Linked DNA regions of Homo sapiens: region 2 is linked to region 1. The links come from fine-mapping of genetic effects on gene expression. A gene starts in region 1. The other region holds a variant in brackets. All regions are shown on one strand. Distances are between the middles of the regions. Region 1 holds the start of TSPYL1 (TSPY like 1). Region 2 has its middle 43 kb from the start of TSPYL1.

Region 1 (9,272 bases):
ATATGAAAAAAATTGAGATATTTTAACATTTTTCTTTCCATACTGAGTCTTCAAAATCCAGTGTGAATTTTATATTTATAGATCTCAATTCAGACTAGCCACATTTCAAGTGCTCAATAGCCACTGGTGGCTAAAAGTTACTGTATTGGACAACACACATCTAGAGTCTAACCCCCTTCTATCTCCAGTATAATCACCTTAAAATGTACAAAGTATATAAAAGGTAACCCAAAATTAAGTAGTGCTCTGTTAAAATGCAAGTGAAAGATTTAATGTTGAAAGTGTTTAGACGTTTTCTAATGACTAAAAGGGGAAATAGTTATTTAGGAATGGCATTGCAAATCTTTTTGACATTTTCCCATTTGCTCATTAAATCTTTCTGAGAACTAGGTTATTTTGTTCTTTTTCCTCCATCTGAGTTTTGTCATTCAATATTTATCTGCTGACAACTATGCAAAACATTATGCTAGATGGGCTGGGTGCGGTGGCTCACGCCTGTAATCCCAGCACTTTGGGAGGCTGAGGTGGGCTGATCACGAGGTCAGGAGATGGAGACCATCCTGGCTAACATGGTGAAACCCCATCTCTACTAAAAATACAAAAAATTAGCCGGGCGTGGTAGCACGTGCCTGTAGTCCCAGCTACTCGGGAGGCTGATGCTGGAGAACTGCTTGAAACCGGGAGGCGGAAGTTGCAGTGAGCCGAGATCGCGCCACTTGCGCTCCAGCCTGGGCAAGAGTGGGACTCTATCTCAAAAAAAAAAAAAAAAAATGCTAGATGCAATGAACCATGTAAAATGCACTGCATCTCCACTTTCACAAAGTTTCCAAACTACTGAGAGGAAAAGAGTGAACATGGGAAAAACATGAAAATATAATCTCTGTATTTTATTTTACTGTATCACTCTGTTAATTCTTTGTTTGCTTATCAGTCCTTCCCCAGTTCCCCAAAGAAGGGAATGGACTTTATCTTCTTACTCTTTTTCTCTATTTGTGGAATTCACTGTAATGAATAATTATGTTAATTTTCTAGAACAGAGGTCCCTCCAAAGTACACTAAGTGCATAAAGAAACATTTATCTCCTCTATGGGGAACAGAAAGACTTTGGCAGAGGAATTACCAAGGGCAGGCCTTGAAGGATTTGACAGAAGAGAACAGTGAGGAAGTTTAAAGAAAAAAAGGAAGTTTTTACAGATGAGAAAGTATGAAAATAGAGGAGTACATCACATATGATAGGTACTCCCTGCATACAAGTTAATAAAAAGAAGAGCCTGAATAACCTGAGAATATAATTTATGGAGACAGAAATGGAGGATTTGAGCAACTGAAGGGGAGGTTGTGCTGCATAAACTACATGGAAAAAAGTGATTGAGTAAGCAGTTGCAACTGCTAACGTTTTAAGGCAAACTACCTTGGAAGGTACCAAACATACCGTGCCCTGCTTTCTTCTCTTTGGGATAATGTCTATTGTGTCCATTTAAGGACTTTAATGATTCTGTAATTTTTAGTTAACATCAATTTAAGGACTTTAATGATTTTAATCCATTAAGAACTTTAATGATTTTAATCCATTAAGAACTTTAATGGATTAAAGGACTTTAATGATTCCATAATTTTTAATTAATATGAACAACTTCATTCAAGCATTACATTTATGGGTAAGGTGAAAAATAAGAAATCTAGCAGAACAACATGCTTTTATTTTACCATCATGCATAAAAAGGAAGACAAATATGCCAATGGTACACTTCCAATTTGTCAGAGCAATTTCACAGTATTTAAGCAATTTAGGAAAAAAGATATATCACTTACTAAGTTGTTACCAGGGAAAATTATCATGTAAGACAATCAATTAAACCATACTTTTGTAGATTATTTTTCCATGAAGGCAATTTGACAAGCCTAACAAAGACCAAGTTGTTCAAACTATGTTTCTAGGAATATAGTTTAACAGAAACAAGAACAAGTTGAAAACTGTTATGACTATTCATATGTCTCTATATTGTACAGGCAAGTAAGACTGTTGTTCTTCCAAATGTTCCCAATTGAAATCAAAAGAATATCTGTACAGCTCAATTTTCACAATAAGTTTAGAATCAGAAAAAAAAATTTTACTAAATCCTAATGAAATAACAATCTTCCACATAAATTAGGTCACAAAACAAGTAAGAAAGCATTCAAAGTTGCGCTGTCTTTCTTTAAAGAACCCTTGTCTAGGCAACATATTTAACACTTTAACCCCTTCAATTCTCCCTGAAAAGTATTTTTCCATTCATCATCATTGGGGAGTAAGTACTCCTTCCTCGAAAGCTCTTAACGACAGCACAGTCTTCACTCTAGGCCCAATTTTTACCTGGCCCATGCCTCTAGCCTTTTGTTCAGTTTCTCCTGCTTAGGGCACCTTTCATCCCATCTAGATGTGTCTCTCTTTAACTATTCTAGGAGTTGATAAAAGGGCTAGGAAGTAGGAAGTTGGGAAGAAGGGGAGGGGCGTAAGAGCTCTAGCACTCTATTTTACAGGCCAACTTCTTTGCCTCTGAAAATGACAGAGCCAAAATGAAATAAAAACCTTGCTTTTACAAATGTTTCTGAGCTATCACTTTTTTAAGAGAGGATTGGGAGGCTAAGGAGGGCGGATCACGAGATCGGGGTTCGAGACCAGCCTGGCCAGCATGGTGAAACCCCGTCTCTACTAAAAATATAAAAATTAGCCGGGCGTGGCGGCGCGCGCCTGTAGTCCCAGCTACTCGGGAGGCTGAGGCAGGAGAATCGCTTGAACCCGGGAGGTGGAGGTTGCAGTGAGCCGAGATCGCGCCACTGCACTCCAACCTGGGCGACAGAGCAAGACTCCGTCCTCCGTCTCAAAAAAAAAAAAAAAAAAAAAAAAAAGGAAAACAGGGAGAGAGAGGGACCTTGGCAGGAGCCAATGTAGGGCAGGTAGCAATAGAAAGTGACTAGAGGTGAAGGAAGAGCAATGAAGTACCATAAATCACACAGAACAAGTGGCTCACTGCTTTTCTCCTCTGAGTTCATTAACGTCCAGTAACTGTCCACAGGGCATGTGCCCATACTGCTCAATGCAGAGCTGAGTAGGTGGAACAGGCTCCCAAAGCTAGAAATCCAAGTGACAGCAACCAGTTCAGAGGCCCTGGGAATAAACAGGGTCCAAGCAGTGCAGATAAAGGCAGTACAATCTACAGTATCATTTGCTTGGCTTACAAGTAGTGTGAAGGATGACCTCGTAGCATGTGATATTCCAGAACAGCATGAAGGTCATATGGAAGTGGAGAAGCATACCCACCACCGTCTCAATCTTGAGGTTGAGAGAACTGAATATCCAAAGGAAACAGGGTGCAGAAAAGTCAGCAAAAACAAAGCACAATAGAAGGCATACTCATTGCTGATGCCCAAGCACAGGTCCAGCAGAAGGTGGTAGGAGACCTTGTGCAGGAGTATTCCCAAGGGCAAATGTTAACCAGACTGGAACCCAAAGGGCCTGGGGATCTCTACAGGCTCCCTTAGCGGGCGACGTCGGGCTCTACGGACTCCTTCACGCAACAGGTAGTATTGCAGTGGATTTGGCCACAGATCCTCTTTAATAATCTCAGCAATTTTGTCGGACTCTGGAAGGCTGTGGTCTGAAAACCAAGTGAAGAAGCTGCAGATGAGGTCTTGGTTTCTGCGAATGAAGGACTGGGGTTCATGCCCCCTGCGCCATATAATTGGAGTAGAAAGAGACACCACTCGGCCGGAGGATCTTACCTCATATTCCTTGACAATCAGCTTGTTTCTGAAGTAGGGGTTTCTTCTAAAGAAGAACTTGAACTTGCAACCGGTTCTAGGGTGTCTGAGTTCCTTCACCTCTAAATTGGTTATGTACCTTAACATCTCTGCATCTTGGCCCCTAATCATGGCGGACAACTGGGGGTGGTTTCGAAAAGCAGTCATCCAGAAGCCCGGGATATTCTGAATGATGTAGTTCCTCCGCTCCAGGTAGTGTCGACGCATCCGCCCAAACTTGTGCTCCAGCTGTTGGAAGGCCCTGTCGGCCTGAGCATTCACAGTGTCCAGTTCCAGCTGGATGGCCTCCAGAGGGTCCATGCGGAGAGCCTCATGCAAAGGCCAGGGCCCTTCTTCCTCCCTCGCCTCCTCCTCCAATCTATCCTCCTCCGCCACTTCTATTTCTTCACCTTCTGGCGGCTGCTCCTCTACCTCCATCTGCTCCTCCATTACCTCCTTCTCCGCCAGGCCTTCCTTCACCACCTCAGCGCTCTCCCTCTCAGCCACGGCTGCTGAGACGGTGGCGCACTTTCCTGTCTTCACCTCCTCCGCCTCAGCCTCCGCCCCCGCCGTCAGCTCAGACGCGGATCTCTGGGCGCCACAGATTTCTAGGGCCTTCTCTCCACCCTGAACGCCCTTTTTCAGGCTGCGGTCGGCTGCCATCACCACAGAAGCGGCTGCCAGGCCTTCGGCGGGAGGCTGGCCCTCTTCCTGCCCGGCTTTGATCGCCACATGACCGCGACCCCCAACAACTCGGATCTGGGGAGTACCGCCACGGCCCGCGGCATCCTGGGGTACGCCCCCCTCCTCTGAAGGCGGTGGAGGCGGGAGCGCGACGGTCTCCGAGCCTCCCTCACCCGGCTCCGCCATCACCTGTGTCGCCTCGCTTTGGTCGCGGAGCCTCAGGTACTGGTGTGCGTCCTGGTCGCTCGGGACTTGGTCAGAAATAATGATGCTGTGGGTTTGGAGGGGAGTGGTCCTCTTGACCCCATCCAGGCCGCTCATGTTGCTAACAGTCGGACCAACCGCAGGCGAACGCCCGTTTTCCTCAGAGGCCGAACTGGGAGCTAACCGCCGCTCGCACCGCCCACCCTACAGTCTCACTAACATTTCAGCGGCGGTGTCGTCAGGACTGGAGATCTCACGGTATCGCGAGAACTTGCTGAGCCCGGGATTGGTTCCGCCGCTCCCTGCCAGCCAACCGGATTCTCTGGGCTTTATTTCTGTGAATTTACCCATAGCAACAGTAATTTTACCTACGTAAATAAATGTCGATTGTGCTGAGTCTGGAAGCGCGGACGACCCACCTTGAGATGCATCTAGCGACTGCTCCCAGCATGTAGGAGCAGTTGTAAAATCACAGCCGTAACAGTGCCTGCTCTCCAGTGTCTGAAAACAAATGTTTTTCTGGTCTTCACTTTTTTGAGGCAGGAAGGTAAATCTATTCCCTGTTACTCCACGTAACTAGCAGCAAAAGACTTCTCTTTAAGATTAATAGCAAAATGTTTCCCCCCTTCTTAGTAAAAGTGACATAAAAATATCAATTCTTGCCTCTACGGTTACTGGGGAAAAAAAGCTACTCAGCAGCCTCTTACCACTAAAGCGATGCATAGTATTCATTGCTAATTTTCGATTTATAATCTGCATCAAATAAGAGTTTGTGCTGCATAGTATCGGTAGAAATTAAGCCAGGATCAGTTTGCTAAATGTTCCATGCCTTTTCACTGCAAGAAAGAGGAAATTATAACTATTTCCAGCCCCAAGAACTTAATTTATTATCATATTTAGTTATGTAAGATAGGAATGTTTGGCTCTAACGAAGCATCTGTCTTTAGCAATCAGCTGAGTTCATTAGAGGGGGATGTCAATGTCTCTGGTTGAAGTGTTCCAGTTTGTTGACTTGTGAGTTAAACTGGTGCTGTCTTAGAGAGCTACAAGGCCTCAGAGAAATATCAGTGGGGGGAGCCACATACCACCATTTTGTGAGGAAAGGCTAGTTAAAATGGACAACTAAGATGGCCTTGAAGTAGAAAACAAACTTGCAAAGGGCAACATGCAGCTGGTGGACTCAAGGTATAAAAGAGGCAAACGTTATTTTCTACTTAATTTGCTTTGTGTGGTAGTAGCCTGATGGCCCTCAAAGATGTACCTGTCTTAGTTATGCGGCCAAAGGGACTTCGCAGATATGATTAAGTTAAAGATTTGGAGATGAGAAGATGATTCTGGATTATACAGGTGGGCCCTATGGAATTACAAATTTCTTATAAGAAGGAGGCAGGAGGGTCAGTCAGAGAAGATAAGAGGACGAAAGCACAGAGAGAGGGAAGGAATGGTGGAGAATAGGTGTGGGAGGGAGGAAAGGGAAATCGCTATGTTGCTGGCTTTGAAGATGGAGGAAGGAGCCAGGATCGTAGGAATAAAGGCAGCCTCTAGAAGCTTGAAAGGTAAGGAAATAGATTCAATCCTAGAGCCTCCAAAGGAATGACAACACCTTGAGGTTATTACCTCTAAACTCCAGCACTATAAGAAAATAAATTTGTGCATTTTAAGCTATTAAATTTGTGGTAATTTGTTACAGAAGCAATATGAAATGAATACACCTTGGATTAAGGTTTGGTTGCATCTATGGGTGCCTCAAGTTGTTTCTAATAGCAGCCCCTTCTACCTTGCTCATGGCTTCCCGTGAGTTCCTGCCCAACAGCTGTGATGTATTACAGCTTGAATCTGTCTTTCAATATCAAGACCAGAAATATACTTAGGCAAATGCACAGAAAGACAAAATTAAAGCCTAAACATACCACAAACGATATCTGAGGAGACTGTAAACTGCAAGAGGACATGATCATGGTTTCGTTTCCCTCTGTTTATCGAGTGCCTAGCACACTACCTTACACAGTATCCCATAGATTATTAAAATGTTAAATAAAGGAGCAAATGAGCAGAAAACAGTTTCTCTTGCTTGCAACTTGCTCCTTGCGGAAGAGAAGTAAGGGGCATATGGGTTGTCACTCTGCTCTCCTTCCTATCTGCCACTGGCAAACCAGAGGGCTGCTCTATTCTATATAGTAACAGTTTCCTACTCAGGAGAATGAATTTCTATATATGTTTCAAAGGCTCTAAAAGGATAGGAAAAACACAGAGAAAACAATTTTATTTTACAAATAATTTAAGTTTGTGTGGTCACACTGTATGACAAACGAACTCTGAAAAGACCAGCATATTTAGGTGAGTTTACATATCAAAGCCTCGGACTACCAGCACTGTATTTCCAATTCTCTCCTTTCTGAAAAAGTCAAGGTAATCATTTCAGGCTTTACTTCGTTTCTGTCTACAGAAATATATAATGCATTTCTCTCTACAAGTGATGGAGCCTGTGATGCATGGCTGGAATTACTTTTGGTGTAAATAAAAAGGAATATTGGAACTTTCCACAAAGACTGTTTCTAATTGCCATGAAATCATCTTCTATTTTGAACTGGTATAATTTCATTCGGCCTAAAGTGGAAACTTCTATTATTCCAATATGTCTCCTATTTTTTTTTAAGCAGAAAGGAGTGTCAGGCTTGGACCAATCTTAGAATATATGGCTTTATTTGTCAAAGAAGCCATTATGTAATTAATGTAATTAACACTCTTACCAGTAATGCTAGGAAAACTCTAATTAGGATCATGTAAGTATAATCAGGACTCTGCTGAATGTAATTTCCCCCAAATAACGTTGAGACTCTTTAAAGGAACTCTTCCTTCTCTTCTTGTCGAACATGTATAAAGCTGTGATAAGGAATATTTGAATATATAGAGAACGTGATTTAAAATTAGAAGTAATGTATCTCATGTTCTCTGTGTATTAGAAGAAAATTACATTAGAGAAGTGATTGTGATTATAACTATTCCTTGTAGGTGATGGAAAGCTCAGGTTATGATTGCTTTCGGACAAGTGCTCAGGAGAAGGGTCAGTAAAGGGCAAGGATTTTAGAGGGAAAAGCAAATATGCATACTTTATGTCCTATTTTTTTTTAAAGAAAGAATCTTTGCTTGGAAGGAGGAACTCTCTAGGAATGTCAACATGCACCAAGGCTCACGTGCTCAGGGAGTTATTTTGCCATACAGGCAAAGCTGTGGTTGCTATTCAACACAGAATATTGTACTTATTATAGTAGGACTATTACTTGTGGATTTTTTGTTCACCTTTTTGTATCTAAAAAGGCTTAAAAAGGATACCTGTTTCTTTTACATGACACAGGTTATCCTGCTATCTGGGAATTCTCTTTCTGGGTAGATGTTACACATTCTCTAAGACTTACCAAAAACCTGTCTTGCTTTAAAATGTGCTAGGCATTTTACATGCATTAAAGTGTCAAATTTCATAAAAGAGGAAACAGTAACACTGAGAGGCTAACTAACTTTACCAAAGTCATACATAAAGTAACTGGTAAATTCTTTCTCCCTTCTCCTGAGTGCATCTTTCCTAAGTAGCCTATGGCTCCTTAATCTTCCTCACCTGAATTCCTGCAACTCTTTTATGAGCTGCACCATGCAGTTTAGCACTTAATTGTGCTTCTCCTCTTAGGGACTAGTTGATTTATATGTGTCAGTCTCATCATCCCAGCATTCCAGCATCATCTCATGGGATGGGAGCATAGTTGCAGCTTCTTTTGCATTTATTCATCATAGCATGGGGCTCAGGTTTGGGTAGATTCTTTGTTGTTGTTGTTGTTGTTGTTGTTGTTGTTGTTGTTATGGAGTCTCACTCTGTCGCCCAGGCTGGAGTGCAGTGGCATGATCTTGGCTCACTGCAACCTCTGCCTCCCAGGTTCAAGCAATTCTCCTGCCTCAGCCTCCCGTGTAGCTGGGACTACAGACACTGGCCACCACACACGGCTAATTTTTGTATTTTTAGTAGAGAAGGGGTTTCCCCACGTTGGTCAGGCTGGTCTCGAATTCCCGACCTCAGGTGATCCGCCCGCCTCAGCCTCCCAAAGTGCTGGGATTACAGGCATGAGCCACTGCGCCCGGCTAGATTTGGGTAGATTCTTAACAATATTTGTTCATTTGAATAAAATAAACCTCAAATTATCTTACAAAAACAACAGTGTATCTGTACTGGCATATTTTATTTGCAGAGGAAATACATTTTGGCTATGCTTCATATATCACCTTTTTTGCACTTTAAAATATAGGATAAATTGGTCCATGACAGAGCATTTCTGTAATTGACAATAAACTTCACTACCCCCAAAGATAGTTGAATCTTTTCTAATACAGTTCTATGGGAAAACATCTGCAAAAAACCCTGAGGTTTTTCTCCATAATATCAAGGAATCATAGATTCTTTGGGAATGATTTCTCAGGTAGCAAGGAGTTTAGCGGAAGTTCAGACATTTTTGTTTTGCAGAAAGGTAGGTTTTATCATTATAATTAATGATAGCTTTCACTTATTTACTGCTCCTGATGTACCAGCCACTTTTATAAACAACATCCAGTGTGTCACA
Region 2 (9,272 bases), 43 kb after region 1:
AGACCATCCTGGCTAACACAGTGAAACCCCGTCTCTACTAAAAATACAAAAAATTAACCAGGCATAGTGGTGGGTGCCTGTAGTCCCAGCTACTTGGGAGGCTGAGGCAGGAGAATGGCATGAACCCGGGCCAAGCTTGCAGTGAGCCGAGATGCACCACTGCGCTCCAGGCTGGGCAACAGAGTGAGATTCCATCTCAAAAGAAAAAAAAAAAAGAAAGAGAAGAAGACTGAAAAAGCAAAACTAAAACTAACTTGCCCCATGGCTCTCAACTAGTAAGTGGCAAAACTAGCAACTTTACAACTATCTGACTGATATCAAAGCTCCAGTTTGTGTTTCTCAGCTATACGTGTCTTTTTAAAAATGAAGGAAATTAAATTTCAGCATCAAATTACCTGGCTAATTTAGAAATGAAGGGTTAAAAGTAAATAGAAAATGAGAAATTTAAAAATATTTTTTGGAAGGAAATACCCAAAGAGTAAAGTGAATTAAATCAGCTTCTTTTCTACTTGCTTATTAATAACAATAATAATGCTAACGTATCCTACAAAGCACATAGCAGAAATGTCTAAGAAAACTGTGTACCTAGTAAATATGTATTAACATGTTTACATATGATTTAAAGATGACTAAAATAGAGGACAGAATGCCCAAAACGCTCTTTTTCTGTTTAGGATGAAACCATTGAAAAAAATGCTTCAGTAGTCTCTTCTAGAAATTGAGGGGAATAGGCTAGGTCATCTCTAAACTCTCTTCAGTTCTAAGATTCTTTATTCTTTCTTTACTTTTTCTAAGCACTTTGACATAGTACTATCCATTTATTTTCAAGATGTTCATTGAAAAATAAATATTATAGGGAATAGATGAATAAACATGGCTAATTACTTAGAGGATTTCTCACAGATTAGTTAACATACACCCTTGTATTAGTCAGAGTAGATAGGTTATGCTGTAGTAACAAACCAACCTTTAATGCTCAGTGATATAAGACAACCAAAGCTTATTTTTAGCTAATTATACATATTTACTGTAAGCACGGGAACTCTGTTTTTGTAGTTATTCAGGGACACATGCTAACAAGTGTATATAGCCAAGCTATTCAAGTTTACCAATTATTGTGCTATAGGGAATGAGGAAATATGGTGAATCTAACACTGGCCCTTGAAGCCTCTGCTTACATTCCATTGACCAAAGCAAATCACATGGTCACATCTCACATGGAAAGAAGAGGCAGGGAAGTACAACTTAGAAGAGGTCTGAAGTGAACGTATTTGTTGAAAAACCCTAATGGATGTCATAAAACTAATACAATGTGAAATGAGAATCTGGTCATATCCTGGTCTTACTTAAAATCCTACACTGTAGTGCCTTATTATGGCCTTTGGGGTAAATATGTATCTTTGACATGGCCCTTGAGGCTCTGTTGATCTGACACTCACCTTCAAAACTTCATCTTTTGATTCTTCCCTTTTCGCTTTCTTCACTGCAGTCATGTTGGTCAACTCATCCAACATGTTGTTTTCATAAATATGTTCTTCTCCCTCCTGTTTACACATCTTTGCACTTCTGTTCAGTCTACCCACTATTCTATAAGCTGAATCCTACCCCCACCTTCACAACTCAGTTTAAACAGGACTAACTCTTGGTAACTGTCCCTGACTTTCTAGGAAAAGATCCCCTTTTATGTGTTCTCATAGCACCTGATGCATTTTCTCAGGATATAAGCTGTGTCTGTTTAACTCACCAACCACAGCACAATACCCAGCACATAATCAAACACTGAAATGTTTGTTGGCCAAATATGGGTTTTAGATTAGTGCCCAAAGATTACATTACCAGATTTCACAGAAAGAATAGACAGCTTTACCAGCAGAGCTGTTAGGAAAGGGACCAATACCAGGATTGCTTATATAAGAGGATGCGTAGCCAGATGCCTCCTAGGTATATATTTTATTGCAAAGGTTACTCTCAACATCAGAATGTGTTCCTGCTTAGTTCTACTTGTGGGACTTTCTGAATCTTGTTTTCTCCTTTGGTAAAAATGAGATTTTCTGGCAAGAATATGTCAATTTTTTTTTATCCTCCTTCAAGAGTCTAGGATGTATTTCTAGATAAAGAACTTATTAGATACTAGATAAGTCAGAAAATATAAACTATGCTTTGGAGAGAACAAAACAAAGGAGAGAACAGTGCAGGTTGGGGCAGGTGAAGGAGTCCTCCTTTAGGGAAGGAGGTGTATTAGTTTGCTTGCGCTGCCATAACAAAATACCATAGACTCAGTGAATTAAACAACAAAAATTTATTTTCTCACATCTGGAGGCTGGAAGTCAAGATCAAGGTACCAGCAGCATTGGTTTCCTCTCCTTTGCTTGAGGTGGCCACTCTATTGCTGCCTCTTCACATGGCCTTTTCTCTGTGCATGCACATCCCTGATGTCTCTTTCCTGTGTTCCAATTTTCTGTTCTTATAAGGACACCAGTGATATTGGATTAGGGTCTACCCTAACGACCTAATTTTAACTTAATTACCTCTTTAGAGGCCCTATATCCAACTACACTTAAACATTCTAAGGTACTAGGGCTTAGCATTTCAATATATGTATTTTAAGGAATACACAACTGAGCTCCTAACAGAAGGCAAAGAAGGAGTGTACTAAGGCGATGGAGAGATTGAGATAGAGCTGACATGCTGCACATGTCAGCAGGCTTGCTTGTGCTATGTGAGATTGTTGAATGGGTCACTGAAACATGACTTCCTTAGAAAAGCAGTTCTGCAACTCTTCTGTCTCTGCTCCATCTTCCTGGTATTGCTTCCCAGGTCACACTTTCAAATACTCATTTAAAAAAACCTACTTATTTATTTACTTATTTGTTTATTTATTTATTTTAGAGACAAGGTCTCACCCTGTTGCCCAGGCTGGAGTGCAGTTGTGTAAGCATAGCTCACTGCAGTCTTGAACACCTGTGCTCAAGTGATCCTCCTCTTGAGTAGCTGGGACTAAAGGTGTGTGCCACCATGTGTAGCTAATTTTTCATTTTTTTTTTTTTTTGGTAGGGATGGGGGTCTTGCTATCTTGGCCAGGCTGTTCTAAAACTCCTGGCCTCATGCAGTCCTCTTGCCTCAGCCTCCCAAAGCACCGAGATTTGACAAGCATGAGCTACTGCACCCAGCCCACAAAAACTCTTCTTATATTTACAGTTCCTGGCCAGGCACAGTGGCTCATGCCTGTAATCCCAGCACTTTGGGAGGCCGAGCAGGTGGATCACGAGTTCAGGCATTGGAGACCAGCCCAGCAAACATAGTGAAACCCCGTCTCTACTAAAAATAGAAAAAATTAGCCGGCGCCTGTAATTCCAGCTACTCGGGAGGCTGAGGCAGGAGAATCGATTGAACCCGGGAGGTGGAAGTTGCAGTGAGCCGAGATCGCGCCACCGCACTCCAGCCCGGGTGGACAGTGTGAGACTCCATCTCAAAATAAATAAACAAACAAATATTTACAGTTCTTTAAGTAGTGTCTGCCTTCTCCCCTATACTGTGTCATAAGGGCAGGAACTTTGTCTTTTTTGTTCACTACTGTACGTCTAGTACCTGACAATCAACATGCCGCAATTTTTTCACATGATAGTGTAGCAGGACGAGCCACAGACAAAACTCCTCAGACACCGAGTTAAAGAAGGAAGGGGTTTGTTCGGCCGGGGGCATCAGCAAGACTCCTGTCTCAAGAGCCGAGCTCCCCAAGTGAGCAATTCCTGTCCCTTTTAAAGGCTCACAACTCTAAGGGGGTGCGTGTGAGAGGGACGTGATTGATTGAGCAAGCAGGGGGTACGTGACTGGGAGCTACATGTACTGGTAATTAGATCAGAACAAAACAGGATAGGGATTTTCACAGTGCATTTCTATACAATGTCTGTAATCTATAGATAACATAACCGATTAGGTCGGGGTCGATCTTTAACTACCAGGCCCAGGGTGTGGCGCCGGGCTGTCTGCTTGTGGATTTCATTTCTGCCTTTTAGTTTTTACTTTTTCTTTCTTTGGAGGCAGAAATTGGGCATAAGACAATATGAGGGGTGGTCTCCTCCCTTAATAGAATAAGTGGAATATGATGTTAAATAAAAGAGATGAAGACCTGGATGTTCCCAAAGGTCTGTAGGCCTCAGCCAGCCTCCCAGAGGGAGCAGAGCCTCTGCCACTGAGTCTTTAGACAAACCTTTCCTTCCCCACCATCCCCAAAATTACTTCTGCCCCCCCACCCCAATTAAATAAGATTTACCTTTGGGACCTGTTGAATAAACCTGGAGTGATTTTTTAGGTTTCTGATTGCCTTCTTCCTAAAATATATCATTTCGTTGATGCTTAAAGTAAATAAAGAAAAAGTATTTCATTCCTCAACCAGTGATAAGATTTAAATGCAAACCTGTGATTGAAGCTGAGATTTCAATTTGTTGAAATGTAATCAGCCCATGTGCATGTGTAAATGACTCTCAACCAAGATTTTCTGTTTAAATATGGAGAGAAGAGAGAGAAGTGGCAGGGTAGAAGAGACTGCAGAATAATGTTTCAGAAGAGTAACTTCCCAGATTTGACACTGCACTCCATGTAGAGCAAGTTGGAGTGTTAGTGTAGAGAGCATT[T/G]TTTTGCTTCCTGGCTGTGGGAAGTCCTCCCCTAACCACCTGCAGAAAATAATTTATCCATGCAGGGAGCATAAGGGTCTTCCAGAAAAGAGAGCTGATAGTGGTTCACAGTATTTTGCGCTTTACTGGTCTGTGATTATGGAATCCCAGATTTGCAACAATTGAAGTCTGGTTTTGTTAATGTTATTCTTTAAGATGTCAGTGGAAACATTTCTCTCCCAGTTCCCTTGTAAAGTGAAAATTACACATCAGTTGTAAGCCAGCTTTTAAACAGATTTCTTTAAAATATGTATTTTTTTCAGTTGTAGCAATGTCATGTCATTTACCTTGTAAGAAATCCTATACTGAGAAATATAAGAGCTGAACATCTTTCACTGTGTTTCTTCACGACTGTACTCAATCTTATTAGATTCTTCTACTGTTAAGCTAATAATTAATTTGGATTTCTATTTTTTTATTGAGTAGTGAGATTCACATTTGACTTGCCAGAAAAATAAAAAACTTTTCAGTGGCAGCAAGGCAGATAATAATTACTTCTTGGACATTCGTTTAGCAGCCAGGTGCTATAGTGTGCTTTGTCTACAAATGTGCTTTTAAATGTTCTTATCGAAAAGTGTGTCCAGGAAAAACCTTTATATTATTATGATCTATTTTACTCATTTTAGTTCTAAGGGTAATGGAATTTCATGTCATTTGATTTGTAATGAACAACACAAAGATTTTTAAATATTCTGAAGAAAGTTTTGAAAATTTAAATCTAACAGAAAAGTAAGAAATATGTTTAATAGCATTTCAGGTATAAAATATACACCAAGAGAAAAAATTAAGTTGGCAATAAGTTATAGTTAATTTTGTATATGGTTTCTATAAGGGGAAAACAGGTCATTAGCCTGATCATGTGCATCTTTCCTGATACCTTTCTTCTCATTCCCTCTTCCATTATCTTCCCTCCACTTCTACCATCCTTCTTCAGCCAGGATATATTTTTAATGGCTGATTTATCCAACTCTTCTCTTTTTTTCTGGGCCCCCTAGTCAAACCTGCCCCACATAGTCAAACCACAACTCATTAACAACCCTCAGAGGCAAGGTAAGAGGACAAAAGAGAAAAGGAAGTGCCCACCTGTGAGATCTGAATTCAGCAGTTAATAGGTCCCCCTCTTACCCCTCACCCCAGGCTCCAAAGGGGCTTTCTTCGTATTAACATGTGGGAAACACAAGTCCCAAAGCTATGTCTGCTAGTAGGCTTTCCTGCTAATTTCACCATCATTTTATTAGACTTCACTTATATCTTACTTCATCAGCTTGCCATTGGCAGGTGGGCAGATTTTCCTCAGTTTTTGGCCTAACTCCAAGATATATACAACAGCAGGCAAGATCCAGGAAAGCAAAGGTATTTTGACTATTTTTCCCAGTTTGCTTTAATAGCTTAGGACAAGTAACCTGCTGGAAGGCAGCAGTTTAGATTATTGACAAGAATATGAGTTTGGAAGTCAAATAGTCACAGGTGAAATCCCAACTCCACCCCCTTGTAGCTGTTTGAATTGACTCCATGAGTTTTAGATCTTCATCAACACAAAGGACAGGGAAAGCACAATTGCTTTAGAATAGGATAGTTGCAGCGTACGTAGCTTTGGAACCTACATGAGATTCTGAGGGTTGTGTGCAGGGGTATATGTAAAATACAAAGAGAGCTGGCTTTGTTAAACAGCAATGGTAGAACAACCCAGGTGACCCGGAAGTTCATTATCCCCTCTCATTGGTAGCTCGAGGAGCCTGAGTTAGCTTAAGGAAAGAACAGGCTTCCATTTCAACTACTTCTTTCCATTGCATTGATGTTCACTGCACTTCTCTGTTCCTTATAATGAGTAGAATATTATAGGGGGAGAGTTTCACCCTTTTGGGGATGCATGCAGTCCATTTCTGCCTGTGTGCACTCTCCTATGTCTGTGCTTTTAAGTTTTCTCTGAGTTTATCCCATTTTATATTTGTACTATGAGGCACTGATAAGGAGTGCTAATGACTCCTTTGCATAACAGTTGGAGATTAGCTAGGGACACATACCACCCACTCTGGGGTTAGGTGTGTTTTGGGAAGCAGCAGAGTTTAACTGGTTCACCCAGGGTGGAAACAATCCTCCTTGGAAAGGCTGGAACCAGGTGGCTGCTAACCCCGAATCATGTCTGGTGGCATCATAGGAGTCCTTCAGACACCAAAGCCTCCAAACCCACAAGTCACTGGGAAAAGGTGGATTTTCTGCAAAAGAAAAACCCTGGCGAGTGAGACTCATGGTTGCCTAAATTTTCTAAGTCCCAAGACCTCACTTTCAGATGTTTCTTCCCCATGTCTGGGGTGAAACCATGCATGATTTTTGAAAAATGTCCACCACAAGTTGTGATGTGCACTCCAGGATGAGTACTGCATGATACATAATCTCCAAAGTTCCATCAGCTCTTTAGTTCTTGAGGTAGGTATCATCAGAAACATATGAGCTCCTTCCCTTTTGGATTAGAGGAATTGTACAAAATGATTTGTTTTTATCTTCTATCTTGCCTTCATCCCCAGATTTCTTGCAACTTTCATCATTTTTTTAATAAAACCTAATGTCCTGTGTTGCAACTGGAGTAGTAGGTAGGTGTTCTCCTGCCAAGTTAAGATGTTTATACAACGTCTGTTTGCCATACTAATGCATGCTGTGGAATTGTCTTCTGCCCTCCATGTAAGGACCACTTCTACCTTCTCAAATACATAACCCATGTATAGTTTGCTATCTGACTTATAGCAAGCATTCAGATATTTTCCTGGCCTATCACTATGTAGCAGGACGAGCCACAGACAAAACTCCTCAGACACCAAGTTAAAGAAGGAAGGGGTTTGTTCAGCCGGGGGCATCGGCAAGACTCCTGTCTCAAGAGCCGAGCTCCCTGAGTGAGCAATTCTCCTCCCTTTTAAGGGCTCACAACTCTAAGGGGATGCACATGAGAGGATCGTGATCGAGTGAGCAAGCAGGGGGTATGTGACTGGGGCTGCACGCACCAGTAATTAGATTGGAACAAAACAGGACAGGGATTTTCACAGTGCTTTTCTATACAATGTCTGTAATCTATAGATAACATAACCGATTAGGTCAGGGGTCGATCTTTAACTACCAGGCCCAGGGTGTGGCGCCGGGCTGTCTGCTTGTGGATTTCATTTCTGCCTTTTAGTTTTATCTTTTTCTTTCTTTGGAGGCAGAAATTGGGCATAAGACAATATGAGGGGTGGTCTCCTCCCTTAATTATAGTAACCAGAAGACAGGCCTCATCCTAGAGGAGCTCAGAGGGGAGGACGGCGGGAGTCCTAAGGAGTCATAGCCTCTAGAGACGAAAGGAAAATCTGAGGCAAGGGTTCTTTTCAGCTTTTTCTTTAACTCCCCCACCCCCCACCAAAAAACTTTCAAATATCTTAGGAGCTGCTTATGCCAAGAGTGATGAAATTTTTTGGCAGTTACTGTGATATTTGTGCCAGTTCACCTCCTTAGGGTATCTTGCTGATAAGATTTAAATGATGCCAACATAATGCTGTTGGACCATTTGTCTCTTTTCACTGTTTTGTGCATTTATCCCATGCTGCGGCACCACCGGCGTCTTCTGAATGGATACTGAGGCAGCCAAATCCTGACTCACTACAGTCCTACACTGTGTCTCTCTTGCTTGGCCGAGAAAACTGTTAGGTTCTCTCTTCATCTGTCAAATGTAAGGATATTAGGCACTCCCTGAAACTTAACTGCTGAGGTACAAAGCATGAATTTAGGTGAAGACTTAATGGAAAGAACAGCAAAATGTATCAAAATCTCTAAATAGGTGAAATAGTATGTAAGGGCAAAATGAAGCAGAAAAATTACTAGAGAGATGAGAATGTAAAATATTTTTCTTACTTCATTCTAGTAGAACAATCTATAAAGAGGGAATGCCTAAGTTAAAAATATAACTGTAAGTAGACTCTTCAAAATGATTAGGCAGGCAGTTAGATTTTCATGTTGCTTCACATTTATTAACCTTCACCCATTAGGCTGTTGTTGGGGTCATTTGTATGATCTTCAAATATTCAGGCCTTCTGTAGAAGCCTTCTAACTCGAGCGGAAATGGATGGCTTTCTCCTAGAGGGAAATTAAGGGGTCCAAAGATACTTAACAGTGCATACAGTAAAGAGAGAAAAAACAGGAAAAAGTCGAGGATTGGAATCTCCAGCTTATAGAGCTCCATTCTGCTCCAGAACAAACTCTGTTTTATTCAGTTACTTAGTTACACAGCACATCAGAGAGACTAAACTATTGACCCTTGAGGTACAGAAAAGAAGTGAGCCAAAGACTTTACGAGATTATTTCCTAGCAGAAAATTAAAATAAAATCTCACTGATTTCTCCATCTCTTCCATCATAAGGTGAACAGTAAGTAAAGGAAGTGGAGAGTTTAAGGGACAGCGTTAGGAAAAACTTCTGAGCTCCTACATGTGACCTGGATAATCATAACTTTAACCCTCAACTGCCTTTCCACCACCTATGATGTTGGGGTTTCAGAAAAGGTGGAATTGGAGGAGGATGGATTTTCTTGTCAAGATCTTGGGCAAATGATATGCTGAAAGAACCACAGCTGGAGTCC

The links.
Region 2: its variant is fine-mapped to the expression of TSPYL1 in whole blood (TOPMed, PIP above 0.99).

The regions. Positions count from the first base shown.
Region 1 is chr6:116,275,046-116,284,317 of GRCh38, forward strand. TSPYL1 (TSPY like 1) reads right to left here and starts at 4,885. Exons shown (of 1, transcript NM_003309.4): 1 at 1-4,885. The coding sequence starts at 4,785. The coding sequence ends at 3,472. It also overlaps a transcript of DSE not described here. RefSeq lists enhancers at 4,249-4,298, 4,319-4,588, 4,819-4,878.
Region 2 is chr6:116,318,304-116,327,575 of GRCh38, forward strand. It overlaps a transcript of DSE not described here. Among named protein-coding and RNA genes, the nearest start is that of TSPYL1, 43 kb to the left of the region's middle. RefSeq lists enhancers at 5,469-6,036, 7,059-7,560. The variant T/G (reference allele first, on the strand shown) is at 4,635.